Homo sapiens: one gene and its partners. The protein of the gene in region 2 interacts with the protein of the main gene of each other region in a biochemical or structural test. Each region holds a gene or a part of one and is shown on either strand. Other genes may lie near its edges.

Evidence for each region.
Region 1: the proteins of DRD2 (region 2) and TRPC4 form a complex in vitro, tested with the Homo sapiens proteins (one study listed by BioGRID).
Region 3: the proteins of DRD2 (region 2) and TRPC1 form a complex in vitro, tested with the Homo sapiens proteins (one study listed by BioGRID).
Region 4: the proteins of DRD2 (region 2) and EPB41L1 form a complex in vitro, tested with the Homo sapiens proteins (one study listed by BioGRID).

The regions. Positions count from the first base shown.
Region 1 is NC_000013.11:37,631,083-37,636,651, reverse strand, and holds the end of TRPC4 (short transient receptor potential channel 4), read left to right. Parts: 3' UTR 1-4,589; downstream 4,590-5,569. UniProt on the Homo sapiens protein: Forms a receptor-activated non-selective calcium permeant cation channel. Acts as a cell-cell contact-dependent endothelial calcium entry channel.
Region 2 is NC_000011.10:113,422,464-113,430,822, reverse strand, and holds part of DRD2 (D(2) dopamine receptor), read left to right. Parts: intron 1-6,140; 5' UTR 6,141-6,171; coding exon 6,172-6,456; coding exon of another isoform or gene 6,457-6,460; intron 6,461-8,359. UniProt on the Homo sapiens protein: Dopamine receptor whose activity is mediated by G proteins which inhibit adenylyl cyclase. Positively regulates postnatal regression of retinal hyaloid vessels via suppression of VEGFR2/KDR activity, downstream of OPN5.
Region 3 is NC_000003.12:142,719,250-142,727,652, forward strand, and holds the start of TRPC1 (short transient receptor potential channel 1), read left to right. Parts: upstream 1-4,784; 5' UTR 4,785-5,310; coding exon 5,311-5,482; intron 5,483-8,403. UniProt on the Homo sapiens protein: Forms a receptor-activated non-selective calcium permeant cation channel. Forms a heteromeric ion channel with TRPC4 or TRPC5 that has reduced calcium permeability compared to the homomeric TRPC4 or TRPC5 channel.
Region 4 is NC_000020.11:36,156,944-36,165,302, forward strand, and holds part of EPB41L1 (band 4.1-like protein 1), read left to right. Parts: intron 1-8,359. UniProt on the Homo sapiens protein: May function to confer stability and plasticity to neuronal membrane via multiple interactions, including the spectrin-actin-based cytoskeleton, integral membrane channels and membrane-associated guanylate kinases.

The DNA of each region.
Region 1 (5,569 bases), on a different chromosome or scaffold from region 2:
TGTACTGTTGCAATAACCCACAGAAACATTTTAGCTATCTTTTTCAATTAAAACAAATGCAATTTATTTCATGTGGTAGTTGACTCCTAAAATAGATATTTTTATATTCAAAAACCAATGTGGCTGAAATATTATAGCTTTTCATAATTTTTTAGGGTCTTTAGAGAGGGTTACTCACCAAGGACTTTTCACCTAGTCCTACAGTTTGGCTTTAAAACACAAATATTACCAAATTATTTCTTAACGACATGTAAATAATTATTGTACACAAAGCAAACAAGTCTTCTTCTCATGGAGTCATATCTAAACTCCCTCAAATTCAGAAAAACTTTGTAGTGTTTTAGGTTGTTCCAGGGTTTCCTTTCAGTAAGTAAAAGAAGTGTTTGTCTTAATACATTTTGATGACTGATGATTTTTAACGACATTTTGTCAGGAAAAAAACTCGCCCCTCCAGTTTTTTTAATTACCTATTTCAGATTCAACTGCTTATCAGTATAAATATGAGTCTTTATGAATAACTGAATTTCAAAAATATGGCAAGATTTCTGTTATAAAAAAATAATAAACCATAATATTGTAAGTATCTTAAACAAGCAAGATGATTACATACTAATAATATCCAAATGAAAATGAATTTATTCTAACAATCTAAATCTAAGTAAAGTTGAATTCCAGTATTTTCAATCAACGCAATATTGTAATCAATTCAAAAGAAGTACAAAAAAACTAGCAGTCTCCTCTTTTCACCAGTAATCTTTATATATTTCTTTAAAATTAAATCACTCAAAAATCATTATTAATTTTATCAGCAGATATAGATATATAGTTTTGCCTATAGGAAAAACATTCTTATTTCTTGTTTTTCTTTCTATTGTTTGCAAGGTAATTTAGCTTATAACAATTCACTGAACTATTACAAGGAAAGTGTTCGCAACTTACATAAAATTGATACTAGAAACTTAAAGCTTAAATTTTACATTGCTTGTGTCTATTTAAGCCACTACGGGAAGTTTCTTCACCACATAAAATTAGCATTTATTTCAAATCAATAGAAAAATGCTAAGTTCATTTTATTTCAAAAATTACTCTGCGAACCTCAGAAATTGCATGTGATTTATCATTGGCCCCAAACTGAATAATGTTATGGCACTCAGTTTCTCATTACCAAACATCAAAAATAAGGAATAACAGCAATAACAATGCCAGCCTCTGTTCTATTCCTATACACCTGTTAACATTTATGTACTGCTCTTTACAGCCCTCTGAAGTAGCTCCTGTTTTTATCCCCATTTCACATATGATGAAACTGAGACCAGCACTAACTGGCTAAGGTAATACAGCTCATGATGGAGCTGTGATGTGTCCATCAGAGCCATTCCCTTCACCACTGCATTGTAACTGCCTTTCAGAACATAAAAAGAGCAAGTTATAAAACATGCATATACAGGGGTTACAATTGCCACTTCTGAAGTCCTATACCTTGAGAGAGAATGAGTTTGGTATGCTTCATAAGAGTCCCTTCTTCTAAAGCAAGAGAAGTGTGCAAAATATAAAATGTGCTGTATTTGATTCTTTAGACTAAATTACATTAAAGTTAGTAGATTTTAAAAACATATTTATTATGTGATCTCAGAACTCAATTTGAAATACTAGATTTTAATTTTCAGAAAAGCCAGGAGCACTAAGCCCCTGTTCACTCCTAAACCTGGTTTTTGGGAATTTAGGAATGGGCCAGATAGATTTGGAGAAACACAAGCCTAAATGAATGCATTTACTGTTTCAAGAACACCTTTATCTCAAGTATATTAGGACTCAGAGCAAATCCTGGGGCTACTGAAATACTCATTTTTTTCTAAATCATACCTACAGTAGTAGAGAAATTGTAGGCCTATTGTTAATATTTGGGATATTTTCTATTAATTTCTTTTTGCCTCTCTTGTGCGTTGTTGTTTTATTTTGTTTTTTCCCAAAGTAAGGACACTATACATAACCATTTTACATACTTTACCAGAATTTAATTTCAAATTCTCTCTGTTCCGTCAAGCAACACCAATAACAGTACAAGCAACAAAACCTTTTTTCCCCCAGTAGCTTATTTATATCAGGGGTTAAGGTGCTGACATTTTATAGGGGGACATGATGGTAATAGAGGAATGTATTTGGAGCAAGTAAGACCCTCCTTTTCAGTGCCCTAGAAAGGATGATTCTAACAACCCCCAGATGTTGCTGACAGATGTGTTTATGAGTATGAACAAAGTGCTGGATATTATTAGTACCCGATGTTACTAATATCACTAGAATTGAATGCTATTCTAAATACGTAGTGACATTATGTAGCATTAATGAAGATGAGGAGTAGGGATAAAATAAGAAAAGTCAAACAACAGCAGGATAGCAAGCAAAGAAATACTGTTTCTTTGAGGTTTGTAAGTGCGTACTTCAGGGTGTTCGTTTCTATTCATATTTCTATCCACAGAAATTTCTAAATGCTACAGAGAACTTTGAAATTACCTTCATTTACATAAATAATGTTTCTCATTTTTCGTACTCTCTTAATCTTAAAAAATCTGTTTTTCTTAAATTTTGTGTCTGAGTTAGGTGAAGGAGTGTGTTGAAAATTCAGTTTAATAGACTAGCAGGTAAGTTTAAAACACTTTGTTTATCACAATTGTATTTTGGAAGTCCCATTTATAAGAAAGTATGCTATAAAGATGTACCTCATTATTCGTAATAAAGGTTTTCCTTAAAATTTCTGTGCAAATAAATCTATATTAACTTCAGTAAGGAAATTGGCTATATTTTTTAAAATGGGGTGAATTATTTTATAAAATCATGAGTAATTTTTCAAAGTGCTAAACATCCTCAAAATGTATCTGTTTCATGAATTGAATATTTGTATATCAAATTTTCTTAAATTAGTTACTCTATTTACTGGATGGCAATTAAACTAATGCAAAAACATACTCACTTTCTTGCCTTGACGTAGACAGCAACTTGAAATACTTTAGTGATGAAACAAATTGATGAAAAGTCAAGGATAGTAGACTCACCATGCTGTTCTCAAAGAAGCAAAGTCAATTTTCTAGCAAAGGTGGAGGAAACATAAGTAACAATAGCATAAGAATATATTCTTCTAACATTCAATAATCCTTAATAACTCTGGGATTTAGCTGAGTAAATGACTATCCAGTCTCACAGCTCTTTATTGAAGAGAGGCCACCAAGTTTTGAAATCTGTCCATTCTTAGTCCTCATGCATTGTATTTTTAGCTGTCTTCTATGGTGTATACAGCTGCCTTCCATGCTCAGTGTCCTTAAAACTCAACCTAGTAAGAACCATCCATTGTGGCCCTGTAAATATGCTTACAATATATTTTTCTTTCTCTGTATTATCTGAAATTCTGACTTAAAACTAACCATAGAATTTAGAAATTTAATATTACTGGCATTCCTCTTAACTTCAAAACCATTATTCTGATTTTACAATGTCTGAAAAGACATTTTATTTATACAGTGTTATCACATGCCTTTTTTAATTTGAATTTTAGAATCATGTTAAATAAGTTCACTGTAGATAACTGGGGAAAGTAAAGCCCAGGGAATTTATGGAAATTATCTAAATTTACCCATGTGTTTGGTGGTCAAGTTGGGGCTTAAACAAAAACCTCCTCATCTAGATATTTGGATGAGGCATCACATTATAAATGCCTTGACCACTGACTTTTTATTTGGGGAACATTTTGTCTTCTTTGCCCTTGTAGAAAATATAGTTGTCCAAACATTCAAGTTAAAATTCAGAATTAATACCATATTATCTTTTGTTTTTCTACAAAGTTGTGTTAAGAGAATTTTTAAAAAGCTGGTTTCTTACTGTTTTCAGAAAATACACTGTTCATTTTCACTGGAAGTGTAGATTTTATGATAACCTGTATGCATACTGGTAATAATAAAATGTATTAAATTATATCAAAGCTTCTCAACTGAAAAACATTAGAGATGGACAATGTACAGTTGAACTAAGATTGGGACAATGGGACCAAGCCTGGATACAGTCACACCGTTACTAGGCTGACAGTGAAGACGTCTCTGCAAGTCAAATTCACCAGTAGCAAAACCGTTAATTTCCTCTAGAGCTGCACTGTTCAGTAACGTAGCTCCTATACTCATACGGCTATTAATCACTTGTAAGTGTGACAAGTCTGAATTAAGATGTGCTGTAAGTGTGAAACACACACCAGATTTCTAGGACAGTATGAAAATAATGTAAACTAGCTCATAAATATTTTATGTTGGCTACATATTGAACTGATAGTATTTATGAAGTATTGATTTAAAATATACTAAGTAAATGAGTTTGATGTTTCTTTTTCCTTTTACAATGTGGCTACTAGAAAACTGAAAAATACGTATGTGGCTTGCATTTGTGCCTTGCAATACATTTCTATTGGACAGTGCTGCTCAGGAACATTTGTATTTGTTTCAGTCAGCTCATGTATCTCCATCATCTGAATTGCAAAGGTAGAAAATTCTATCTTTAATTACTCAAAAAAGTTTTGTGTAGCTCTATTAAAGTTTGCAGTCTCTCCTTGATTCCTAATCTCCTAATGGACTCACTGGTAATAATTTGCTGTTTTTCCCTGTTTTTCCTTTGCCTTTGCAAATGTATTAATATATAAATATACATGCAGCTATATAGGTTATGGTTTTGTTATCATTTTTATCAAGAATTTCATCACACTATACCTATAACTTAGCAAATGTTTTTATCTAACAGTGTATCACGGAAACCTTTTCTAAAATAATTAAATATAGTGGAGCCATTTGAATCTATTTAAATAAATTCCTTGACTAGTTATTTTACCTAGTGAAATATTATCGCATGCTATTTTTAAAACCATGATAGAAGAGCTACTTATTGGAGAAAACACAAGGTTTTGTTTGTTTCTTTGTTTGTCTTTTGAGACAGAGTCTCTCTCTGTTGCCCAGGCTGGAGTCTAGTGGCACAATCTCAGCTCACTGCAACCTCTGTCTCCTGGGTTCAAGCAATTCTCCTGCCTTAGCCTCCTGAGTAGCTGGGATTACAGGAGCTTGCCACACATCTGGCTAATTTTTGTATTTTTAGTAGAGAGGGGATTTCACCATGTTAGCCAGGCTGGTCTTGAACTCCTGACCTCGTGATCTGCCCGCCTCAGCCTCCCAAAGTGCTGGGATTACAGGTCTGAGCCACCGCACCCAGCCCACAAGGTTTTTAAGTGATGAGAAATGCCTGATAGACAACAAGGTGTGTCTGAAAGGCAAATAAGCTCATTTGTCTCTTTCGTTTACAATCTTGCAGGGCTGGGTTTCTGGTACCAGCATCGCTTCTCAGCTTCATTCTCTCACACACTATACTTCAGCCATTCTAAACTTCTTTCAGCTCCTTGCGAGTTAGTATTGTTCTTTTCTCTAACATTTGCAAACATTGTTTTTCCATGCTTGAGTAAGAATTGTACCAAAATTTTATTACTTTAAATAATTTTAATAAAGGATTTTAATTAATTCTAATCGACTTATTTTATGATTTCCTTTAG
Region 2 (8,359 bases):
TTTCCCTCAACAAGCTCCAGAGTGGACAAAGAACTCACCAGGCTTCTTTGGAGCCAGAACCAGCCCAGCGTAACTGGAGCAGCACTGAGAACCTTTCCTCACTCCGCTACCATGAACACAAGCTCCAGCCAGGATGGAGAAGCTACTCACTTGTGTATTCTTTTGGGATGCCCCTTGGAGCCCAACAATCTGTGCAGCCCGGAGACAGAAGGACAAAAGGGAGGGATGGGCTGGAGCTGCAGCAGGGAAGCCTGGGGACCAGCAGGTTTTCTCAGGCCCCTTGAGAAAATACCAGCTTAGAAATGCTGGGAAGGCCCTGTATTGCTATCCACTCTACAATGCACTTCCCCCTGCCCCCACCATTTTAATGTCTCTGAAATCAGAATGCATTTTACAATGGATGACATCTTGGAGCTCTACTGGGGTTGGATGGCATTTTTTTCTTTCCTAGTGATATATAAAATAGTGGTGCATCTTCATTCGATTTTGTCTTAGAGTCTATGAAATGTGGTGATTAGTATGACAGTCATCGGCTATAGCAGCTGGGCTGGGAGAGCTGTATCTTCCAGGCCAGCTGCTACCTCATCTCAAGGGTCACTTGAGTTTGTCCTACAGCCAGGGCCCAGGGACAGGCTTTGTCTTTTCCTTCCTTTACTTCCTCCCAAGGAGTTGGTGGCTGCATCTTGAAATCCATCTCCCTTCATCTAGCCACCTATTTTTCAGGATGGGCCATAGGAGGCAGTGGGCCCAGGAGGACCTCAGACCCTAGTGAGCTGCATTTGAACAGCAACAGTCACTTCATCTTGCTGAGCCGTTGGCTTGTGGTCTGATTGCTTGTTTCATTTCATTCTTTTGCTTGGTTTGATTTTTAAAGTTGACATTCTCAAGGGCTTACCTGTGCCTGGCACATGGCCATGAGTCATCTTACTTAATACTCACAATTGTTGTTATCTCTATTTTGTGTATGGGAAAACTGGGCTCAGGAAAGCCAAATAATCTGGCTGAGGCCCCAAAGTTAGTAAATGGTAGAGTTGGGACTTGAACCCAGGTTTTTTAGTCCTCAACTCGAATGTTATACTAGCACCTCTCAGGCTAGAGTACCTTCTCTGTGGCAGTGGATTTGCTGATGTCTGAATTCCTGCTCAGCTTGATGTTTACATGGTGAGAGCCAGCTAGGCTGCCCCTGCTTGTGAGAGGTGAAAGCCCCAAGTAGATAAGGTGCTGAAGACACGATAGAAACCAGGACTGACACCAGGTGTTAAAAGATAGCCCTGTACTGGCCGGGTGCGGTGGCTCACGCCTGTAATCCCAGCACTCTGGGAGGCCGAGGCAGGCAGATAATGAGGTCAGGAGATCGAGACCATCCTGACTAACACGGTGAAACCCCGTCTCTACTAAAAATACAAAAAAATTAGCTGGACATGGTGGCGGGCACCTGTAGTCCTGGCTACTCGGGAGGCTGAGGCAGGAGAATGGCGTGAATCCAGGAGGCGGAGCTTGCAGTGAGCCGAGATAGCCCCACTGCACTCCAGCCCGGGTGACAGAGCAAGACTCCATCTCAATAACAAAAAAACCCCCAAACAAGCAAACAGACAAAAAGATAGCCCTGTACCAAGGTACTTATAGGGGTTACAGGTATTTAGGCATTTGCCATGTTTTCCCTTTTTTTTCCTATGGTGTAAATATACTACGTTTGTATTAGCAACAAAAAGCAACGAGAACAACCAATAATAAATAATAGATTAGAAAATCAAATGTGTGAGGCCTTTCTCAGAACTTGGGTACAGGGACTCTCCCTTACCCTGCAGAAGTAACCAGCACTCCAGAGAATGAATGCTCACCCTCAACCCCACCTGACCTGCAGTGCTCACATTTGCCATCTACATTGTACTCATAATTTTAAATCCTAGACTAGTGCCTGTAATCCCAGCACTTTGGGAGGCCAAGGCAGGAGTATCTCTTGAGGCCAGGAGTGTGAGACCAGCCTGGGCAACATAGTGAGACCCCCATCTCTACAAAACATTTTTAAAAATTAGCCAGGCATGGTGGCACATGCCTGTATTTCCAGCTACTCAGGAGGCTGAGGTGGTAGGATCACTTGAGGCCAGGAGTTGAGGCTGCAGTGAGCTATGATTGTGCCACTGCACTCCAGCCTGGGTGGCAAAGTGGGATTCTGTCTCTATTAAAAAAAAATTAAATCCCAGTTTACATCCTCCCTCCTCCAGGAAGTTCTCCACAAACGCCCCAGCCACACACATGTGCATATGCTCCTGAACATCAACTGTAGTGGACACGGTGGAGTGCCACCCAGATCCCCCTGCAGGACCACAGCCCTCATCCCCATCTACTGGGAGTGTTGGCAACTGACAGTTTTTGGCAATTGCCCACTGCTGAGGAGAGATGCCTCTTTCAAGGCCTCGCTGCTTTCCCTGGGACAGCCAGAAGCTGTGACATCTATGAGAGGGGATTAAAGGCCCTACCCTGTTGCCCTCATTTAGGCAACTGGCAGGGTGCCCTGTGGGGTCACCTGATGCCTTTCTTGTGACTTCTCCCTCTGGCCTGTCCTGCTTCCTCACTTCTTTGCACATCTTGATCCTGAGAGCATTCCCCTGTACATTTCCTGCAGGCTGATTTCCTCTTCAGAGTCTACTTCTAGGGACCTGTATTAGTCTGCTCTGGCTGCTATGACAAAATTCCACAGATTGGGTGGATTGAACAACAGAAATCTGTTTCCTCATAGTTCTGGAGGCTGGGACGTCCCAGATCAAGGTGTCAACAGGGCTGATTTTGCTTAAGGCCTCTCTCCATGGCTAGCAGATGGCCGCCTTCTTGCTGCATTCCCACTTGGTCTCTCCTCTGTGCGCGCATCCCTGATGTCTCTTTTTATGTCCAAAGCTCCTCTTATAAGGACTCCAGTCAGATTGGGTTAGGGCCCACCCTAAGCGTCTCATTTTAACATAATCAACTCTTTAAAGGCCCTGTATCCTAATACAGTCACATTCTGAGGTACTGGGGGTTAGGACTTCAACATATACATTTTGTGGGTTGGGGGAAGAGCATAGTGCAGACTGTAACAGGACCCAACATGCAGCACCTATGGCACCCTTGGGGTGCCTTACTTTTTCATCACTTGTTAATCTGGTAGCCTATGTTAGCAGGTGCCTTTCAAGTGGGAAGGGGTTTTCTTCCCAGTTGCACTAACAGAGCCTTTGATTCAGTTCAGCAAACATCTGTTGAATACGTACTGCCCACAAACCAGAGTCAAGAGTTGGGAAAGAACAAGATAGTATGGTTTTTATTTGTTCATTCCAAGAACAAGAGGAGGAATGAGCAAGACATGTTGTAACTCTTGTGATGTCTACACCCCAGTGAAAAAAAGAGACTCCTAAACAGGTGTCTCCTGCAGCACTGGGGTGTGTTTCAGTGCTGCAGGACCCTGAGGAGGGTGGGTGATGGCTCAGGCAGGAGGATATGGGTGGATTCTAAGACAGGAGGATTCTAGGCAAGACTCACTTTGAAGGATGCATAGGGACTGGAAAAGCAGAGGGAAGGGAAGTGAACAGAAGAGTTTTCCAAATCCCTTTCTTATTAAAGTAGGGATAATAATTAGACAAGATCAAGCATGTTCCAGGTAGTATGGCCATAGACAGGGATAATAATTAAAAGCCTCCGAGGGTTGTTTTGAGGATAAATGAGACAGTATATCCAAAAAACTTAGCAAACTATCAAACCCTTTACAAGTATATGATGCTATCATCAGCAGCAGGGAGTGGGGGGAGAAGAAGAGAGCGATGGTCAGGATGGGGGCAGTAAGTGTGCCTCACACGCCTCAGGCCCCTGACACTGCTTTGCACAGTGCTTTATGCCCAGCAGGTTCAATAAATGCCGATTGAGTAAATGAATGTCAGAAGCAGCCCCAGGCACCTGATCAATACATACATGCAGGCCTCCCGCTGTGGGCTCCAAATGGGAAGAGGGCTCAGTTGGTTTTGCAGAATACAGCATCAATATGACATATGCTTCATTACCTTAGAACAGGAAGATTTGCTGCGTGGTGGCATTCCATGTCACCCCACATGGAATTAGGCACTTTGCTTTTCCCCGAGGCTCCAGAGTGATGGTGGTTGGTAGGACATGATCCATATTCTTCTACTAAAGCTGGAAGAGTGGGTGTGTCAGACAGGGATGAGAGTGTGGAGATTGGGCAGACCCTCTTCCACCATCCTCTCTGACCCATTGCTGGAGGTGTGCCCTGTTCATTGATTGGACATGGCACCACATTCATCCCAAATGGCATCAATTGGTGGTTTTCAATTTGCAGTAGCAAAGTACCTGGAAGTCATGTGCTTTGTATGAAACACCTTGGAATGCTGATAAGTTTAATTCTATTCTGTAAAAGAGGAAGACTTTTGTTAGCTGAAAAGCCAACTATATTATCCATGCATTATGCTTCAGTCACAACCAAAACTCCGGCTGTCAAGTTCATCAACTCCTGATGCCTCCCAAGTCTGCTCCTGAGCCCCTCTGGTCCCTTTTCTCTGTGAATATGCGACACCAGCCTCCCAGAGCCCCACGCAGAAATCCTAGCATTACCCTCAACTCCTTATCTCCCTGCTTGTCCCATACCCACTTTTGCCCCACACCTATCCAAGGACCAAGGACCATGAAATTGACTTGCAGTTTAGCTCCTAATTCTGAACAGGTCTCTCCATCCTCGTTTCCACTATCTTCGTTCAGATGACCACAATTTCTAACCTAAATTACAGCCAAAACATCACTCTCCTCTGAGCTCTCTTCTACACCATACACTTTCTAGAACACCAGTCCAATAGGGTCATGTCTCTGGGCCCAACCTCTCAGGGACTCTCCAGCTGACAAGACACAATCTGGCCTGTAAATGTCCCTGCAGTTTAATTATCCTCAACGTTACTGCCATACCCTACATTTTTGGCCAAACAGAATTGTTTGCTGTTTGATGATTTGATACCATGTCATATTGTCTGTCTGGAACATCCCCCCACCCCTCTCATTTAGCAGGCTAAGTCCTCCTTCTACTTCATCCCAGATGATACCCACTTCAGGAAGTCTTTCCCTTCTGTGGGATGAGATGCCCATTCTGCAGGGCTTTCACTCCCTGCATCCTGCCAAACCTCATCATCTCTTACCTGGATTCCTGCTACAGCCTCCCAGTTGGTGTCCCGCTTCCACTCTGGGCCCCTCCTCTCCGTTCTCCACAGTGCTGTCAGAATCACCTATTCGAAAGGCGAATCTGATCATGTGGTTCCTGCTGCCCTTAGGATCATGTATAAACTCCTAGCATGACTTTTAAGGCCCTCTATGATCTTGCCTATTGCAACCTCCCCAGACTCAACCCTTGCCAGGTCCCTCTGCATCAGCTATCCAGAATCTCTTTGAGGCCCTCCACCTGCTGTCTACCTCTCTACCTCTGTGCTTTGCATATACTGCTTCCAATGTCTAGACCTTCTGCTGACTCCTAGTTCTTTACCTGGCTAATTCCTACACATCCTTCAGTTGTTTGTCTGTTGAACATCACTTCCTCTAGAAAGCCTTCCCTGAATACCTGAACTAGGTTATGTATCTCTCTCCCTGTTCCATTTCCTACTCCCTATCACCCTTAGATGTAATTGCTTGATTAATTGGCTGTTGTTTCTCCTAGAATGTGAGCTACAGAACCATGTATATTTTGTTCCTGCCTATATTTCTAGAACTATATAGAACAATGCTTAATAAATATTTATAGAATCAAGAATGAATGAATACCCATTTCTGTTTCGATGACTAGAAGGTAGCAAGCCTGGTTAACTGAAGTGTGTGGTGCATGGGTCGTGCTTAAGAAGTGTTTGTTGAATGAATAAATAAATGATGGATCAGCTCTGTTCAAGCTCATCTTATTATGCATTTTTAAAAAATTGTGTTTGCTCATTTGTCCTACCAGCTGTAAAAACTTGCTAGCAAAAGAGTGGCAGAAGGCCCAACATTTTTAGAAAATTCTTAGCCGTAAACCTTAAAATCCCGAGTTGGAAAATTCTCATTATTAAATGCCAGGAGTTGGTCTTCTTCCTGGAGACCTCTGCAAGAGGCCCTCTCACTGACACCTTGTGTCCATTTTTCCTGGCCAGAGCCTGGCCACCCAGTGGCTCCACCGCCCTGATGGATCCACTGAATCTGTCCTGGTATGATGATGATCTGGAGAGGCAGAACTGGAGCCGGCCCTTCAACGGGTCAGACGGGAAGGCGGACAGACCCCACTACAACTACTATGCCACACTGCTCACCCTGCTCATCGCTGTCATCGTCTTCGGCAACGTGCTGGTGTGCATGGCTGTGTCCCGCGAGAAGGCGCTGCAGACCACCACCAACTACCTGATCGTCAGCCTCGCAGTGGCCGACCTCCTCGTCGCCACACTGGTCATGCCCTGGGTTGTCTACCTGGAGGTAGGTGGGCCCCCTGCTTGCTCCAGCACTTTCTCCAGCAGGGCCCTGCACTGGACACTGGGGACTCTAGCTCCCCACTGGCTTTTACCAATGAGTTTCCTGGTGCTTCCCCAGGTGGTTTTTCCTTCACTCTGGGCTTACTTTTTCTCCTTACGAAATGGGTAGATTGTTTCCTTAATAATCCCAACTACCATTTGTAAAGTGCTTACTAAGTGCTGGGCCTCACGTAGGGACTTTAAATATAGCATTTTCCTATATAACCCTCACAGCAGCTTAGAGGCTGGCATTATTGCCACCATTTTGCAGTTGATAAACCAGGTGGTCAGAGATGTTAAGTAACTGCTGCAGCATCACACGGCTGGCAAGTCCAAGCTGGAATTCTGGCCTCAGAGTTAGTTCCTTAGGTCATATTGGAAATAGGAGTAACCGGCAAGGATCCCCAAGGAGGGGCATGTTTATGCTCCCAGGCCCCTGAAACCTTCACTCCCATCTCCCCACTTCAGAAATGGGTCTGCTGCTTTATGCTCCCCATATCCCCTCTCCTTCCCACAGCTTATCCTGGGGCCCTGTCCAGGACCTGCAGGTAGAGGCTGCCATGGACTGTGCTGTAGCCCTTTTGTTAGGAAGAATTGTGTAGTCACTCATTTCTTGGCCCAGCTCTGCACCTCAAAATGGGGAGTAGGCAGCACAGTCTAGACACTGTGCCTGGTGCATTGCTGACACAGACCCAGTGAATACTCTTGGTAACCCTGGGAGTCCATGCTACTCTTCTCACTTTACAAAATAGGAAACAGGCCGAGCACGGTGGCTCACGCCTGTAATCCTAGCACTTTGGGAGGCCGAGGCAGGCAGATCACGAGGCCAGGAGTTCAAGACCAGCCTGGCCAACATGGTGAAACCCCATCTCTACTAAAAATGCAACAATTAGCCAGGTGTGGTGGCATATGCCTGTAATCCCAGATACTTGGGAGGCTGAGGCAGGAGAATTGCTTGAATCTGGGAGGCAGAGGTTGCAGTGAGCTGAGATCATACCATTGCACTCCAGCCTGGGCGACAGAGCAAGACTCTGTCTCAAAAAAAAAATAAAATTAAATTAAAACAAAAACAAAATAGGAAATAGAAGCTTTGGAGAAGTTGCCTTTCTTCACCCAGGTCACAGGGAGAAATGCTGATGGAGAAATCCCAAAGCAGATATTATTCTCCAGGAAGACACCTTCAGAGCCAGCGAGCAGATGTGGGAGCATTTAGGGATCATCGGTGGGCACAAGCTGGATCCTGCCCCTTTCTCTGCCCAGCTTTCTAGGATGGCATGTCCAGGACTCAAGCAATCTGGGAGTCTAGGTGCATGGGAAGGCATGGGATCAGGCATTTAGGAAAGTGCCGGTGCTCTGCCCACTGAACCGTTACCTTCCTTCCCTGAGCAGGAGAGGAATTGACCAGTGCCTCTGAGGCCATCCCTGCCTGAGAGGGAAGGGGTTGTTGAAAGAAAATGAGAAAGCTTTGTAGGTTTAAACAGGGGAGAAATCTAGATGAGGACGCTCAGGTGAGGAGGCGAGACTGGTGGAAAGTGGCACACCTCCCTGTCCCTGGGCCCCCAAGGGGCTCGTGCGCTTACTGTTCTCACCACCACCCCGGGCCCAAGGGAGCTCTGATCCATCACCCCTTGGCTTCCTTTACTACAGCCAATGCAGGCTGCAACTTCCAAAATGACCTGACTGGATATTAAGGAAGAACCAAAAGGAAACACAAATACAAAACCACATAAAAATATTCAGTTGACACAGGCCAGGAGTCCAATTCCCCCTGGATCCATGTTTATGAGGGCCCCTAGACTCTGTCCATGCCTTCTTAATTCTTACGCTTGATCCCCTCCTTCTTCCCTCTTCCAAAGGAGGGTCCTAGG
Region 3 (8,403 bases), on a different chromosome or scaffold from region 2:
AGAAATAAGATAGACAGCAACACAATAATAGTGGGGGATTTCAATACTCCACTCACAGTACTAGACAGGTCATCAAGACAGAAAGTCAACAAAGAAACAATGGATTTAAACTATACCCTGGAACAAATGGGCTTAACAGATGTTTACGTAACATTCTACCAAACAACTGCAGAATATACATTCTATTCATCAGCACGTGGAACTTTCTCCAAGATAGATCATATGATAGGCCACAAAACAAATCTCAATAAATTTAAGAAAATTAAAATTATATCAAGCACTCTCTCAGACCACAGTGGAATAAAACTGAAAATCAACTCCAAAAGGAACCTTCAAAACTATGCAAATACATGGAAATTAAATAACCTGCTCCTGAATGACAACTGGGTCAAAAATGAAATCAAGATGGAAATTTAAAAATTTTTCAAGCTGAACAACAATAGTGACATGACTTATCAAAACCTCTGGGATACAGCAAAGGTGGTGCTAAGAGGAAAGCTCATAGCCCTAAATGCCTACATCAAAAAGTCTGAAAGAGCACAAATAGACAATCTAAGGTCATACCTCAAGAAACTAGAGAAACAAGAACAAACCAAACCCAAACCCAGCAGAAGAAAGGAAATAAGATCGGAGCAGAGCTAAATGGAATTGAAATGGAAAAAAAAAAATACAAAAGACAAATGAAATAGGCCGGGCGCAGTGGCTCACGCCTGTAATCCCAGCACTTTGGGAGGCCGAGGCGGGCAGATCACAAGGTCAGGAGATCGAGACCATCCTGGCTAACACAGTGAAACCCCGTCTCTACTAAAAAAATACAAAAAATTAGCCCGGCGTGGTGGTGGGCACCTGTAGTCCCAGCTACTCAGGAGGCTGAGGCAGGAGAATGGCATGAACCCGGGAGGCAGAGCTTGCAGTGAGCTGAGATTGCGCCACTGCACTCTATCCTGGGTGACAGAGCAAGACTCCATCACAAAAAAAAAAAAAAAGAAACAAAAAGCTGGTTCTCTGAAAAGATAAATAAAATTGATAGACCATTAAAAAGATTAATCAAGAAAAGAAGAGAGAAAATCCAAATAAGCTCAATTAGAAATGAAATGGGAGATACTACAATTGACACCACAGAAATACAAAAGATCATTCAAGGCTACTATGAACACCTTTACACACATAAACTAGAAAACCTAGAGGAGATGGATAAATTCCTGGAAAGATACAACCCACCTAGCTTGAATCAGGAAGAATTAGATACTCTGAACAGACCAATAACAAGCAGCAAGATTGAAACGGTAATAAAAAAAATCACCAACAAAAAAAGTCCAGGATCAGATTCACAGCTGATCCTGTGACATTTAAAGACATTTAAAGAAGAATGTCACTATTCCACAAGACACAGAAAGAGGAAATCCTCCCTAAAGCATTCTATGAAGCCAGTATCACCCTAATACCAAAACCAGGAAAGAACATAACCCAAAAAAAAAAAAAAAAAAAAAACCAAACTACAGACCAATATTCCAGATGAACATAGATGTAAAAATCCTTAACAAAATACTAGCTAATTGAATCCAACAACATATCAAAAAGATAATCCACCATGATCAAGTGGGTTTCATACCAGGGATGCAGGGATGGTTTAACATATGCAAGTCAATAAATGTGATACATCACATAAACAGAATTAAAAACAAATCACATGATCATCTTAACAGACGCAGAAAAAGCACTTGACAAAATCCAGCATCCCTTTATGATTAAAACCCTCAGCAAAACTGGCATACAAGGGACATACCACAATGTAATAAAAGCCATCTATGACAAACCCACAGCCAACACAATACTGAATGGGGAAAAGTTGAAAGCATTCCCTCTGACAACTGGAATAAGACAAGGATGCCCACTCTCACCACTCCTCTTCAACATAGTACTGGAAGTCCCATCCAGAGCAATCAGAGAAGAGAAAGAAAGAAAGGGCATCCAAGTCAGTAAAGAGGCAGTCAAACTGTTGCTGTTTGCTGATGATATGATTGTATATCTAGAAAACCCTAAAGACTTCTCCAAAATGCTCCTAGAACTGATAAAAGAAGTCAGCAAAGTTTCAGGATACAAAACTAATGTACACACATCAGTAGCCCTCCTATACACCAACAGCAACCAAGCTGAGAATCAAACAAAGAACTCAATTCCTTTGACAATAGCGGCAAAAGTATTTTGTTTTATTAGAAAAATAAAATACTTAGGAACATACCTAACAAAGAAGGAGAAAGAACTCTACAAGGAAAACTACAAAACACTGCTGAAAGAAATCACAGACGAGGCAAACAAATGGAAACACATCCCATGCTCATGGATGGGTAGAATCAACATTGTGAAAATGACCATACTGCCAAAAGCAATCTACAAATTCAATGCAATTCCCATCAAAATACCACCATCATTCTTCACAGAACTAGAAAAAATAATCCTAAAATCCATATGGAACCAAAAAAGAGCCTGCATAGCCAATGCAAGATGAAGCGAAAAGAACAAATCTGGAGACATCACATTACCTGATTTCAAACTATACTATAAGGCTACTGTCACCAAAACAGCATGGTACTGGCATAAAAATAGGCATATAGACCAATGGAACAGAATAGAGAACCCAGAAATAAACCCAAATACTTACAGCCGACTGATTTTCAACAAAGCAAACAAAAACATAAAGTGGGGGAAAAGACACCCTATTCAACAAATGGTGCTGGGATAATTGGCAAGCCACACGTAGGAGAATAAAACTGGATCTGCATCTCTCACCTTATACAAAAATAAACTCAAGATGGATCAAGAACTTAAATCTAAGACCTGAAACTATAAAAATTCTAGAAGATAACATCGGAAAACCCCTTGTAGACATTGGCTTAGGCAAGGATTTCATGACCAAGAACCCAAAAGCAAATGCAATGAAAAGAAAGATAAATAGCTGGGACTTGATTAAATGAAAGAGCTTTTGCATGGCAAAGGGAAGAGTTAGCAGAGTAAACAGACAACCCACAGAGTGGGAGAAAATCTTCATAATCTATGCATCTGACAAAGGACTACTATCCAGAATCTACAATGAATTCAAACAAATAATCAAGAAAAAAAAAATCCTAACAAAAACTGGGCTAAAAACATGAAAAGGGCTGGGGGCAGTGGCTCATGCTTGTAATCCCAGCACTTTGGGAGGCTGAGGCAGGCAGATCACCTGAGGTCTGGAGTTCGAGACCAGCCTGACCAACAGGGAGAAACACTGTCTCTACTAAAAATACAAAATTAGCCGGGTGTGGTGGCACATGCCGGTAATACCAGCTGGTCGGAAGGCTGAGGCAGGAGAATCACTTGAACCTGGGAGGCGGAAGTTGCGGTGAGCCAAGATCACGCCATTGCACTCCAGCCTGGGCAACAAGAGCAAAACTCTGTCTCAAGAAAAAACAAAAAAACATGAATAGACAATTCTCAAAAGAAGATACACAAATGGCCAACAAACATATGAAAAAATGCTCAAGATCACTAATGATCAGGGAATTCCAAGTCAAAACTGCTATGCCGTATGTACCACCCTACTTCCGCAAGAATGGCCATAATCAAAAAAATCAAAAAATAATAGCTGTTGGTGTGGATGCGGTGAAAAGGGAACACTTCTACATTACTGGTGGGACTGTAAACTAGTACACCACTATGGAAAACAGTGTGGAGATTCCTTAGAGAACTAAAAGTAGAACTACCATTTGATCCAGTAATCCCACTACTGGGTATCTACCCAGAGGAAAAGAAGTCATTACACGAAAAAGATACTTGCCCATGCATATTTATAGCAGCACAATTCGCAATTGCAAAAATGTGGAGCCAACCCAAATGCCCATGAATCAATGAGTGGATAAAGAAACTGTGATATATATATATATATATATATATGTGGTATATATATATGTGATATATATATAATGATGGAATACTACTCAGCCATAAAAAGGAATGAATAAATGGCATTCGCAGAAACCTGGATGGGACTGGAGACTATTATTCTTATTCTAAATGAAGTAACTCAGGAATGGAAAACCAAACATCGTATGTTCTCACTCACAAGTGAGAGCTAAGCTTTGAGGATGCAAAGGCATAGGAATGACACAATGGACTTTCGGGACTCGGGGAAAGGTTGGGAAGGGGGAGAGGGATAAAAGACTACAAAATTAGGTTCAGTGTATACTGCTCGATGATGGGTACATCAAAATCTCACAAATCATCACTAAAGAACTTACTCATGTAACCAAACACCACCTGTTCCTCAAAAACCTATGGAAATAATATGGAAATAAAAATTTATATATTTGTATAAATTATTTAAACATAATATAATTATATATCTATATATCCTTTATAAATGAGAGTTCATTTCCAGCCTAAAATGAGTACAACATACAAACCCACGAGTCTGGCTCTCCATTGTGCTTTAAAGCATAGTGCACCAGAATATGAAATAGCTGGACAATTCCACAAAGGATTTCGACTAAACATTAAGTCGTCAGAGACTCAATTAACATACTGCTCCATATTTGCTTAATTACCTTAAACCAGTACCCTGGGTGTGGAAAGGGACGATTGAGCGAAGTCTTCCTCAGACTGCGGTTCACCTCACCAGAGCGAAGGAAGCTGCAGCGGGCTCCAGGAGCCCAGTGCGTCCCCACCGCAGGCCCCACCCACCCACGCCCCGCTTGCCGCAGGCCCCGCCCACCCAAGCCCGCCCTTGCCGCAGGCTCCTCCCTAGTGTCGTCGCTACAGAGGAGCAGAGGATGACGTGAGGACAGAGTCGCGAACATCTCCTCGGAGCGCAGCTGGGCCAGCGGTTCCCACAGCCCTGGAGCCCAACGTGCGCAGAAGCGCCTCTTGGAGCTCCTCTCCCACAGATCTCTCGTCCTCTTCCTGGGCTAGGCCGCCCCAGGCGCGGCCCCTGCGACTCCTGGCACGGCCCCGTGCTCGGCTGCCGCCCTGGCGCGCGCCACACTGTCGTCCCCGGACGGGCGCGGACCGGCTCGGCCGGGGCGCCGGCGGCTGGGGAGGGGTCGCTGGCCCCGGGGCCGCGCATGCGCCGCCACCAACTTGGGGCTGTCAGTGGAGGGCGAGTGCTGGTTCTCAGGGGAGGCGACGCCCTTCGGGGCCAACGGGCCTCGAGCCGAGGCAGCAGTGGGAACGACTCATCCTTTTTCCAGCCCTGGGGCGTGGCTGGGGTCGGGGTCGGGGTCGGGGCCGGTGGGGGCCCCGCCCCCGTCTCCTGGCCTGCCCCCTTCATGGGCCGCGATGATGGCGGCCCTGTACCCGAGCACGGACCTCTCGGGCGCCTCCTCCTCCTCCCTGCCTTCCTCTCCATCCTCTTCCTCGCCGAACGAGGTGATGGCGCTGAAGGATGTGCGGGAGGTGAAGGAGGAGAATACGCTGAATGAGAAGCTTTTCTTGCTGGCGTGCGACAAGGGTGAGAGTTAGGCCCCTTTCTCCTCTGGACGCCCCTGTCCTCCAGACCTTTAGTCCTCTCCCCCGCCTCAACTTATATCGGGGCATTCCCTCTGTCTCAGGCGCCGAGTGTCTTCCCGCCTCGCCTGCTGCCTCAGGCGGTCTTCTCCTCACCGCCTCTGCCCTGTGAGTGTGGAGCTGGCGGGAGAGTGGAGCTGGGGCTGCGCCCTCGGAGCGCTGCACCGTCGGGGGTGGCTCTGGCCTTGGGGTCCGGGGTTTAGGTAGCGCCTTGGGAGCCCCGACCCCAGCGTTTTAGCGCCGCCCTTGCTACTGACCGCATGAATGACCTGGTCTTCTCTCTGGCTCGCAGTTCATTCCTTCCGGGAGTCGAGAGGCTAGTTTCCGACACTCCAGTCGGAAAATTCCGTCACCTTACCTTAGGATGCCTCGTATGGAGGGTTCTCATCACCTGGTTTTTGTTTTTCTTAAAAACAAAACCAGACCCTCTATTATTTAGCTTCACCTGACCAGTGCTTTAGCCAGTGACTGTTGACTGGCATTAATAACGGAATATCCTAGGTGGAGATACATGAAGTAAGGACGGGACGGAAGAAATTCTGCCTTAGTTGCCAAAACTTTCTCTGGATTTACGGAACGCCTTTGATTGTTAGTGCTTTTTATTGGAGAGAAAGATTTATTGCTCCCAGATCTTTCTTTGGGAGATAAAGATAGTGAAAAATAATTACAGGAATTACAAGGCAAAAATATGTGGAATATATTTAGCGCGTTATCCTTTTTTTAGTCTAGAAGTTAATCATTTTTATGGCCATATTAAGGCCATGTCACGCAATCATCCTTTGTAGTGATGTATATAACAAAAGGGATAGGAAATTGATTGCCCTAAGACTGCTTTTGTTTCCTACATGGAAACACTAAAATTTTTCTTTTTCCAAATTTATATGGCTGTACACTTAGGAAAACTCTGTTAGAAACATGCAAACTTCTGGAACAAACCCAAAGGGCAGTTTACACTATGAAAAGACTAACTACACAGGATTTTTGTTTGTTTGTTTGTATGTGTGAATGTGTAATTAATAAATGACAGCCTTCCTAACCTCTCCTCCTGCTTTTGAAATAGGATTTTATTTACATGATTTTTTGAAAACAATTGACATATAAACAAAGTCCACCTATGTCTGTGGTTGAGCCATTTTTATGTTCTTATGTAATAGTATTAAATAATATTATGAAAGCAATATTAATAATATTGTTAAAGTACACCATGGACACAACTTTGAGCAGTCTTTGAGATGTAAAGAAACAGAATATACATCTACAACGTCACAAAAATAGGGTCTGTGGATTATGTAAAATTATTTAGTATTGCTGGAGTGGGTTGCCTGAGTTCTCTTCCCTCAAAAGTTCTGAGAGAGGAAGGGGAGAAGATTGTGTTGTACTAAAATGAGTAAGTGCTGGCTCCATGTATTCCAGCTCACTGTGCAATGGTTATTTTAAAGCAAACAGAAAGTATGTCAAGAAAGGAAATTTGATATTCCTGTCAAACTGAGGACAGAAAAATATCAGTGGAATATGGTTGAGCAAGTATTTGTGCATTGTGTATATTTAGGATTATTGCATGACATATCTCAAACAAAAGAGAGTTTTAATTTATGATAGTTGTATAGCCTATTTAGTAGTACCAGGTGAAATACCTTGATATTCTTTGTCAGTTTTTTATTTTATAACATAATTGAGATGAGAGACTTGGCTTTGGGGGGGTAGGGTGGAAATTAAATATGCATATTTTCCCCATATATAAATTAGAAATTTTTAAAACAAGTGAGCTAAAATGGGAATTTTCTGTTTCAGGTATGTCTAAACAACTTCTTGAGTTAGATTTGGAAAAATAGCATAATTCTTACGCATACTTATGGGGTACATTTACATTTAAAAAGTAACTTTGAGTTATAGGAATATTCTTTTGATTACGTGTTTGTATTCGCTAATATTGTTAGACTTTTTAAAATGTTACCTAAACCAGTCTAAAAGTGAACAATTTCCTGAAGTAGCTATGACTTCCACCATTACACTGGAGCCTTCCTCAGACCAAATGTTAAACATTCACTAAAGCAGCTATTGGGGTCGAGTGTTCATGCTTTTCATAGAGGATTTCATTTAAACCCCACAACCCCATGAGCCAGATCTGTTGTTGTCCTCAATTTGTAGATGAGGAAAATGAGGCTTAGCAAAATTTTAAAATTACTTTGCCCAAGGTTACATTGGTTAGATAATAGTAGAACTGGCATTTATCTTGAGCCTGCACTCCTAACCACTACGTTATATAGATCTGGTTGTAGGTGAATGAGTGAACATCATTTGTGTCAGAAAAGACACATCCATATTTGGACTTACTAGTTGAAATTACATTTTCTTTGTATGGATGCTTTATAAACCTTGATTTCTGTGTATTACATTTGTTCAATGAAGGGTAAAAAGCAAGCATGGTACTTCAGTAGCACCAGAGTAAATCAACTCTAGAGTATCTATGGTGTTCTAGAGTGTCTCATTCTTTTCATGTAGCATTCTTGTTGTACATATGCAAAATGTTCATAACATATTCTTCTTAGGAAAAATTGAGGAATTCCTAAAGCAAAAATTGTGGAGATGAGATGGATATGTGTATGTTAGTGGATGGGTGGCCCTTTGAAAGATGTGTACAGATTAAAGAGTACAATAAATGTAGGAAAGAGAAAAGAAAAAGATTTATAGTTTGTGATAGCTGGCTTTTATGTAAGTAAGTTCGGTAGATTTAGGCAACTGCTGATCTAGGTAGTGGCCACTTAGTAATGGCTGTTAGTGATCTTCATAGTGGGTGAGGATCATCTCAGAGGTAACATTGAATCCTTTCTTTGTAAAGGAAAACCTTAATTGAAAGTTACTGTG
Region 4 (8,359 bases), on a different chromosome or scaffold from region 2:
AGGCGTGCGCCATTGCGCACGCCTGTAATCCCAGCACTTTGGGAGGACGAGGCGGGCAGATCACAAGTTCAAGAGATGAAGACCATCCTGGCCAACATGGTGAAACCCCGTCTCTACTAAAAATACAAAAATTAGCTGGGCGTGGTAGTGCACGCCTATAGCCCCAGCAACTCGGGAGGCTGAGGCAGGAGAATCGCCTGACCCCAGGAGGCAGAGGTTGCAGTGAGCCGACATCGTGCCACTGCACTCCAGCCTGGAGACAGAGCGAGACTCCCTCTCAAAGAAAAAAAAAGGGCGGGGAGGATGATCATCTCTGCCTGGAGATAAATACCAATGATTACACAATCAAAGTGATAGTATTTATTGAAACTTACTGTATGCCATGTACTGCAAGAAGTGCTTTGAGTCATTTCACAGTAACCCTGTCAGATAGATGTGATTAATTATCCACTTTTTACAGAGGAGAAACTGAGGCTCAGAGAGGTTATGTCACTGGACTAAAGTTACGCAGCTGGAAAGTGCGAGGCGGTCTGAGTCCAGAGCCCTTCTTTCTACCATGACATTTACTGGGGGCAATATCTGGAAGTACCAGGTTGGTGTCCAGTGGAGCCAGGCAATTCATTGGTAGGCCAGGGCCAGTCCAGGTGGAGAGGTGTGTGAGGGGTGTGTGTGTGTGTGCCTGGTGAGGCAAGGGTGGCTTTGTGGACTGAATATTACTATAGTGCTGAGGGGTAGGGGTAGATAAGTACTGACTAGGAGCTCTCAGAGAAGGATTAGCCTTGGCCTTCTCCTTCCTGGCCAGGGTCCCCCAGAAGTGGGGAAACACCAGACTCCCTGCTCCCATTGGCTTTTAGGGAAGATGGGCTGGCTCTGGACACATCCCGAGGCCACAGTGGGGACTGGGCTAAGGAGGCCCTGTGGGCAGGGAGCTGAGCCTTGGTGGATGGGTGGGGGTGGAGCAGGCTGGCACTGCTTCCTTTGTGGGCTAGAGGCTTGTGGATCAGAATAGTAACAGCTAACATTTATTGAGCATTTATTATGTGCCAGGCCCAGTTTTAAGGGCTTCCATGTACAACTCATACGTTCTTCACAAAGCCCTGTGAGGTGTAGATGAGGTATAGGAGTTATTCTTCCCGTTTTACAGATTGATGGAGCTGTGGCTTAGATAGTTGTTCAAGGTCAAATAGCTAGGCTGTGGGGGAGTCAGGATTCAAACCTAGGCAGTGTGGGTCAGAGCCATGTTCCTGAAGGCCATGCCAGGCAGCCTGTAGTTTCTCAGAGGCCATACTCTGTTTTGTTCAAGTTGAAATAGTCACTCAGTCAGATGCATCCCTCTCCTCAAAGGCCTCCCAGTCTAGCTGGGAGAGATGCAGACATGACACACTAAAAGTAAAGAGTGTGCTATTGCATAGGCTCAGCATGGATTCCTATTTTGGTGCTCAGGGAAGGCTTCAAGAAGACGGGGACCTTTGAGCTGGGCACTGAAGGCCAAGTCGGATTTCGATGGTTGAAGGGGGAAGGGCACCCACTTCCCCAGGTCAGAGGGGAAGGAAATAGGAATGCCTCTGAAGAAGAGTGGGCGGTCTGATGTGCGTGGAACAGATAGTGTGTGTGGCGGAGTGTGAGCTGGGAGGTGACTCAGAAAGTCACCTAGTGTTTGGGTTTTTGATGGAGCTCTGGAATCCACCAGACGTAGGCTATAGTCACAGCAATGCATTGTATTAGCCACGTGGCCTTGGGCACATCACTCAGCTGGCCCAAACCTCAGTTTCCTCATTCGTAAAATGCAGATAAACATGCCTGTCTCACAGGGACCATGTTGTGGTTGTTATATAAAGCACCTAGTGTAATGCTAACACATTGCAGGAACTCAGTAAACATTACTTCTCTCCCGCTTCTGTCTCTCTTAAATGTCAGGCCAAGGTGTTTCGACTTGACGTGAGCCGGGATGCTCTAGGAATCTTTGCAGGATTTTAGTCTGCTGAGGAGCATGACAGAACTGTGTTTTGGGAAGGTCCTTTTGGCAACCGTATGATCCACAGGAGAGGGTGGACGTGATCTTACAGGAGAAACCTTAACTGTGGGGACTTGGAGGGCTGGGGAGGGATCAAGATTGGCACTCATTAAGGTGTCCCTCTGGTAGTGGGTGGTTCGCCAGGTTGGAGAAGGAGGAGCTTGGAGTGGGTAAGGCCACAGGGTCAGGAATTCTGTTTCAGGCCTGGTGAGTTTGAGAAGGGCTGGTCTCCCTTTAGTCATCTGGAAGATTGGGTAGCATCTTTTTTGCACATCTGGCCTGTTTTTCCTTTGAATTATTTCTTTTGAATAAATCCCCATCAGAGCTTCCTCTATAATAGCAGTAAATTGGGACTAAGTGTCCAACAATAGGAAGATGATTGGGAAAGCTTTGGAACATCCACTGGATAAAATAATACGCAGTGGTGAACACCCACAGAAAAACTGCTTGCAGTGGATGGAGCTGTGCAATTGCAAAGCTCTTTTGCATCCTTGATTCATTTTGTGCTTATGACTGCTCTGCGACAGAGGTGGGGCCGGGGCTAGATCCTTTCTGTGTTTGAAGAGAATGACGCTAGACTCCAGTCTCCTTGAAGGCAGAGTTGAGTTCACATTTTATTCATTGTTTCGTCGCAGCATGTTGCTCAGTGGTTTGCAAATACTTGTCCGATGAAAGAATGAGTGAACTAATCAAGAGGGGAAGTGACTTGATCAAGGTCACTCAAGTTGTAAGACATAGTGCCTGCCATATTCTTGCTATTCCCTACTTGCCACATTCTTCTCACTAACCACTCACTATCTTCGAGGGGAATAGGACAGAGAGGTTCCCAGTGAGGACCTGGCACTTGCATAGAACAGGGTTTAAGTCTTCTTTCTGTTTTTACTAGCTGTGAGGCAATTGGCAAGTTAATTAATCTTTCAAAGCCCCAGTTTGCCCAGCTGTAATGTGGATAGTCCAAGTACCTGGTTTTAGGGTTGTCATCAAGATTGAATAAGTTAAGGCATGTAAACATCTTGGCATGGTAACTAGTACATAGTGAAGTATCCATGAACATTAGTGGAGATGATGATGATGTCATGATGTGATGTCATTAATGGTCTGATACAATTAATGTTAAATGGGAAAGAAGACCCATAAGATTATCAGTATTCATATTACAATGGTATAAAATTAGGTATGAACATAGATACAGATTGGAAGAAAACAGGTAGAAAATGGAGTTCCAGCAAGCATATGGGAAGTGAATAAAACAGAAAAACAAATATTTCTTTACTGTTATATTTACTTTTCTTTAGTTTTAATTACAAAAAAAATTTGTGGAAAATCTAATAATTCAGAAGTGTAGGCCAGGCACGGTGGCTCATGCCTATAATCCCAGCACTCTGGGAGGCTGAGGCGGGTAGATCACCTGAGGTCAGGAGTTCAAGACCAGCCTGGCCAACATGGTGAAACCCCATTTCTACTAAAAATACAAAAAGTTAGCCGGGCATGGTGGCTGGCGCCTGTAATCCCAGCTACTCAGGAGGCTGAGGCAAGAGAATCTCTTGCACCCGGAAGGCAGAGGTTGTGGGGCAGTGAGCCGAGATTGCGCCATTGCACTCCAGCCTGGGTGACAGAGCGAGACTCCGTCACAAAAAAAAAAAAGAAAGAAAGAAAGAAAAAAAGTGTATTCTCCCCTTAGATCCCCAAACAAATCCTACTCTCCAGTCGTAGCTAATAACAGCATGTTGTGTATCCTTCCAGGATATTTTCTATACCAACATAAACATACAAACCAGAATGGGATCATACATTGCATTATTGTTTTACAACTTGCATTTTTCATGTAACTACACATTGACATCTTTTTATGTCAGTAGATATAAAATCTATCTCAAAAATTTTTGCAATAGGTATGTTATACTTTCATAATTAAATTTTTAATGGATAAACCCTACTAATTTGGCCAGCCCCCCTGTTGATTGACATTTGAAGTTGTTTCCAATTTTACGGTATTCTAAGTAACGCTAACTGAACTCTAACAGTATTTAGACAATTAGTGAAAATCAAGTGAGAGAAGGAGTCAGAAACCATGAGACCGTGAGAGTTGCCCTCAAAGGTCTGCTGCTTCTCCCTTCTCCTGTTCCCTCCTCTCCTCACTGGAGCCTGGGGGAACTGGTCTTGGAGGAGGCCATCTCTCTGTCACCCTCAAAAGGTGGTGATGTCCCAGGGAAAGACCCTTTCTTTCACCCACCCAGTATGGAGCTCTCCTAGGAAATTTTCAAATTCTCTTAGGATGCTCTAAGCTGCTGCTTGGGCTGTGCAGCTGCCCACACCCAGACTGTCCTTGGACAAGCTTTCTACCTTCTCTGTACCTCAGTTTGTCCATCTGTCTGGTGGTGATCAGAGCCATTGCTGCCACTGAGTGTCTTCTATATGTCAAATACTGTGCTAGAGCAAGCTTCATGTGCATTATCTGTTTTTCTATTTTTTCTTTTTATTTTATTCTTCTTATTTTTTTGTTTGTTTGTTTTTTGGGTTTTTTTGTTTTGTTTTTGAGATGGAGTCTTGCTGTGTTGCCCAGGCTGGAGTGCAGTGGCAGGATCTCAGCTCACTGCAACCTCCGCCTCCCCGGTTCAAGCAATTCTCCTGCCTTGGCCTCCCAAGTAGCTGGGATTACAGGCACGTGCCACCTGCCTGGCTAGTTCTTGTATTTTTAGTAGAGACAGGTTATCACTGTGTTGGCCAGGCTGGTCTCGAACTCCTGACCTCAGGTGATCTGCCTGCCTCAGCCTCCCAAAGTGCTGGGATTACAGGCCCAGTCGTTATTCTTGTTTTTTTAAAGACAGCCTGTCACTCTGTCACCCAGGCTGGAGTGCAGTGGCATAGTCACAGCTCACTGTGACCTCAAACTCCCAGGCTCTAGTGATCCTCCTGCCTCAGCCTCCTGAGTAGCTGGGACTACAGGTGCACCCCACCATGCCCGGCTAATTTGGGGGGGGCACAGGGTAAAGACAGTGTCTCGCTCTGTTGCCCAGACTGCTCTCAAACTCCTGGGCTCAAGCAATCCTCCCTCCTTGGCCTTCCAAAGTGCTGAGATTACAGGCGTGAGCCACCACACCCTGCCTATCTCATTTAATTCTCACTATACACCTTGGAGGTGCAGGGGATAGTCTTCTCAATAGAGGTTAAGTAACCTGCCCAAGGTCACCAAGCCTGTGGCATCAGGATTCCAGCTCTGGCTCATAAGCCCATGTCTGTAACTGCTGTTTCCTGCCCACTCTCAACAGTGGCTAATTGGTGAGGTCCAAGCAAAATGATTATAAAAAGATCCTTTAAGTTGTAAAGTGCCCTGCATGTGGGAGGGATTGATACTGCCGTTATTATTTCTACATCCAGAGCAACAGTAGCTTTGGTTATATGGCTTACAGCAAGTTGGAGGTCGTGGGATGTAGCAGCATTGAGTGGGGAGAGCACTGGACTGTGAGCCAGCAGACTTGAGTCCTAGTCCTGGCTCTCCTTGAAACTGACTAGCCATGTGGCCTTGGCCACTAAGCCGCCTGGGAAATAAGCTCACCTACTCCGTGTGGCCCTTGTGCAGCTCAAATAAGATAAAGCCCAAAAGACAGCCAGCATGTTGCCCAGCTCTCGGAGGATACCCTGCTAACGGGAGGTCTCTCTCTGCCTTCTGCATCGTCATCAGGATGGGCCAGGTGGGACGCATGTCTCCGTTTTAATGCTGTTACTCTGCAGTTCTGTGCTGTCACGTGGTCCCCAGCCCACCACTGCACATCAGCCTGAGGCTCCCTAGTGGCCCGTGAAGCTTTTGGGCAAGAAGCCAAGGCTGATGGGTGGTGGCCTTTTCACATTGTTTGGTCTAAAGTGGTGTCCGTGGGTACTGCAAACCTCTGACGAATTGCCGTCTCCCCACTGCCATGTACAAATCCAAGCACCAGACAGGATGACTGCAGACTCAGCTCCCTTTTTGATCCTTCTTGCCTGGCTGTGAAAGTGGCTTGAGGTCTCAGAGGCAGCTCTCTCAGCCTGTACCCTCCATCCTTTCATTCACGTCCATGTAGACATTATCACTCAGGGAAGTGAGTGTTCCATACTGGGGAAGTCCCCTTGGGAAGGAAGTCACATCATCTCCAGCAAGTGAGAGAAAGAATAAGCCCTAATAGGCACTCTTTCTGTTTTTTTTTTTTTTTCTTGTAATTCTTCTTTTTTCTTTTCTGACTCCGAAAGTAATACATGCTCATAGTAGAAAATTGAAAAATACGGAGAAAAAGGCCCCTATTTCCTTCTCCAAGGGAAGGCTATTGTTAACATTTTAGTCTTTGGACTTAATTGGAGAGTAATATTTCTGGAGCAAATATTTCTAATATTCTGGTATGTGTTTAGTGTTTTACAGGCATGATCTGATTCCATTTTCACAGTAAGCCTGTGAGGTATGTAAGTTTATCATCATGACTTTACAGATGAAGAAACTGAGGCACAAAGAGGTTAAGGGGCTTCCTGACGGTTCCCTTGCCTTCCTTGACTTCTTAGCTTATTCTGCCTCTTCTCAGGCTCCCCTTATCCTAAGTGAGCATCAGGTGGTGGATCAGTCAGATTCTGACAGGAAACAGAATTCCACTCAGATGCTTCACCTGAGGAGATGTTAATAAAGATGTGAGCAGGGTGAGGGGAACCCACATGGGATGGTGAGGCACCCACAAACTAACAGTGACAGAAGGCATTACTAGCTCTCGGCCTGAATGAGCAGGAGGGAGTGGTGTTACCTGAGTTCCGTGACTGGTAGAGGTGGGCAGGGAGCTGTCGCAGAGGGGCTCAGCCACCACCAGGACCACAGAGAGAGAAATTGGGGAAGATACACCCAGGATCTCTCTCCTTCCACCTTCTGAATTCCTGCCAGTGCCTTCTTCTTTATTATTTTTTTTTTAAGACAGAGTCTCTGTCGTCCAGGCTAGAGTGCAGTAGCATGATCTTGGCTCACTGCAACTTCCACCTCCCAGGTCTGCCTCAGCCTCCCTAGTAGCTGGGACTACAGGCGCCTGCCACCACACCCAGTTAATTTTTATATTTTTAGTAGAGACAGGGTTTCACCTTGTTGGCCAGGCTGGTCTCAAACTCCTGACCCCAAGTCATCCACCCACCTTGGCCTCCCAAAATGCTGGGATTGCAGGCGTGAGCCACTGTGCCCGGCCCCTGCCAGTGTCTTCTATTGGCCAAATGGAACCAGAAACCAGGAGGCAAGGGAGCTCAAGGGACAGTCCAATGGGCCAGCCTCCTGCTTCTTCAAGCAGGTCATGGATCTGGGGGTGCACATGGAGACTAACAACCCAAGCGACATGGTTGTAGGGAGATGGGAGAGACATGTCCTCTGACTTCCCAGAAAGAGTTGTCTTAGTAACTGACTATTAAAAACATCATTCAAAACAAGAGACTTTTTTTCTGCCTGGGAGTCTCTTGGTGTTTTGGTGTCTCCTCCCTCCCCTGCCCCCCATCTCCTCTCTCACCTGGTTCAGAATTTCCAAGAACACCTGGGCAACAGTCTTTGGTGTCATCGGTGTGCAGGGTTTAGAAGAGACAACCTTGCTTGCATGATACATGTGGCTGTGTGTGTTCTCATGTTGTTTCACTGCTGTGCCTATGCATACAAAGACATGCTTCTTGTGTACATGTCATAAGCATCTATAACATAGTCTCCTCTGTATCCAGCAGAATATTCACTTTTTATTTATTTATTTATCTAATTTTATTTTTTTGAGATGGAGTCTTGCTCTGTCTCCAGGCTGGAGTTCAGTGGCATGATCTCGGCTCATTTCAACCTCTGCTGCCGAGGTTCAAGCAATTCTCCTGTCTCAGGCTCCCGAGTAGCTGGGACTACAGGAGCCTGCCACCATGCCCGGCTAATTTTTGTATTTTTAGTAGAGATAGGGTTTCACGATATTGGTTAGGCTGGTCTCGAACTCCTGACCTCAGGTGATCCACCCGCCTCACCCTCCCAAAATGCTGGGATTACAGGTGTGAGCCACTGCGCCTGGCTATTTATTTATTTTTGAGACAGAATCTCGTTCTGTCACCCAGGCTGGAGTGCAGTGGTGCGATCTGAGCTCACTACAACCTCTGCCTCCCAGTTTCAAGCAATTCTTCTGCCTCAGCCTCCCAGGTAGCTGGGATTACAGGCACGCACCACCACACTTGGCTAATTTTTGTATTTTTTCTAGGAACAAAGTTTCACCATGTTGGCTGGGTTGGTCTTGAACTCCTGGCCTCAAGTGATTTGCCTGCCTCGGCCTCCCAAAGTGCTGGGATTACAGGCATGAGCCACCGCGCCTGGCCCAGGACATTAACTTTTGTATC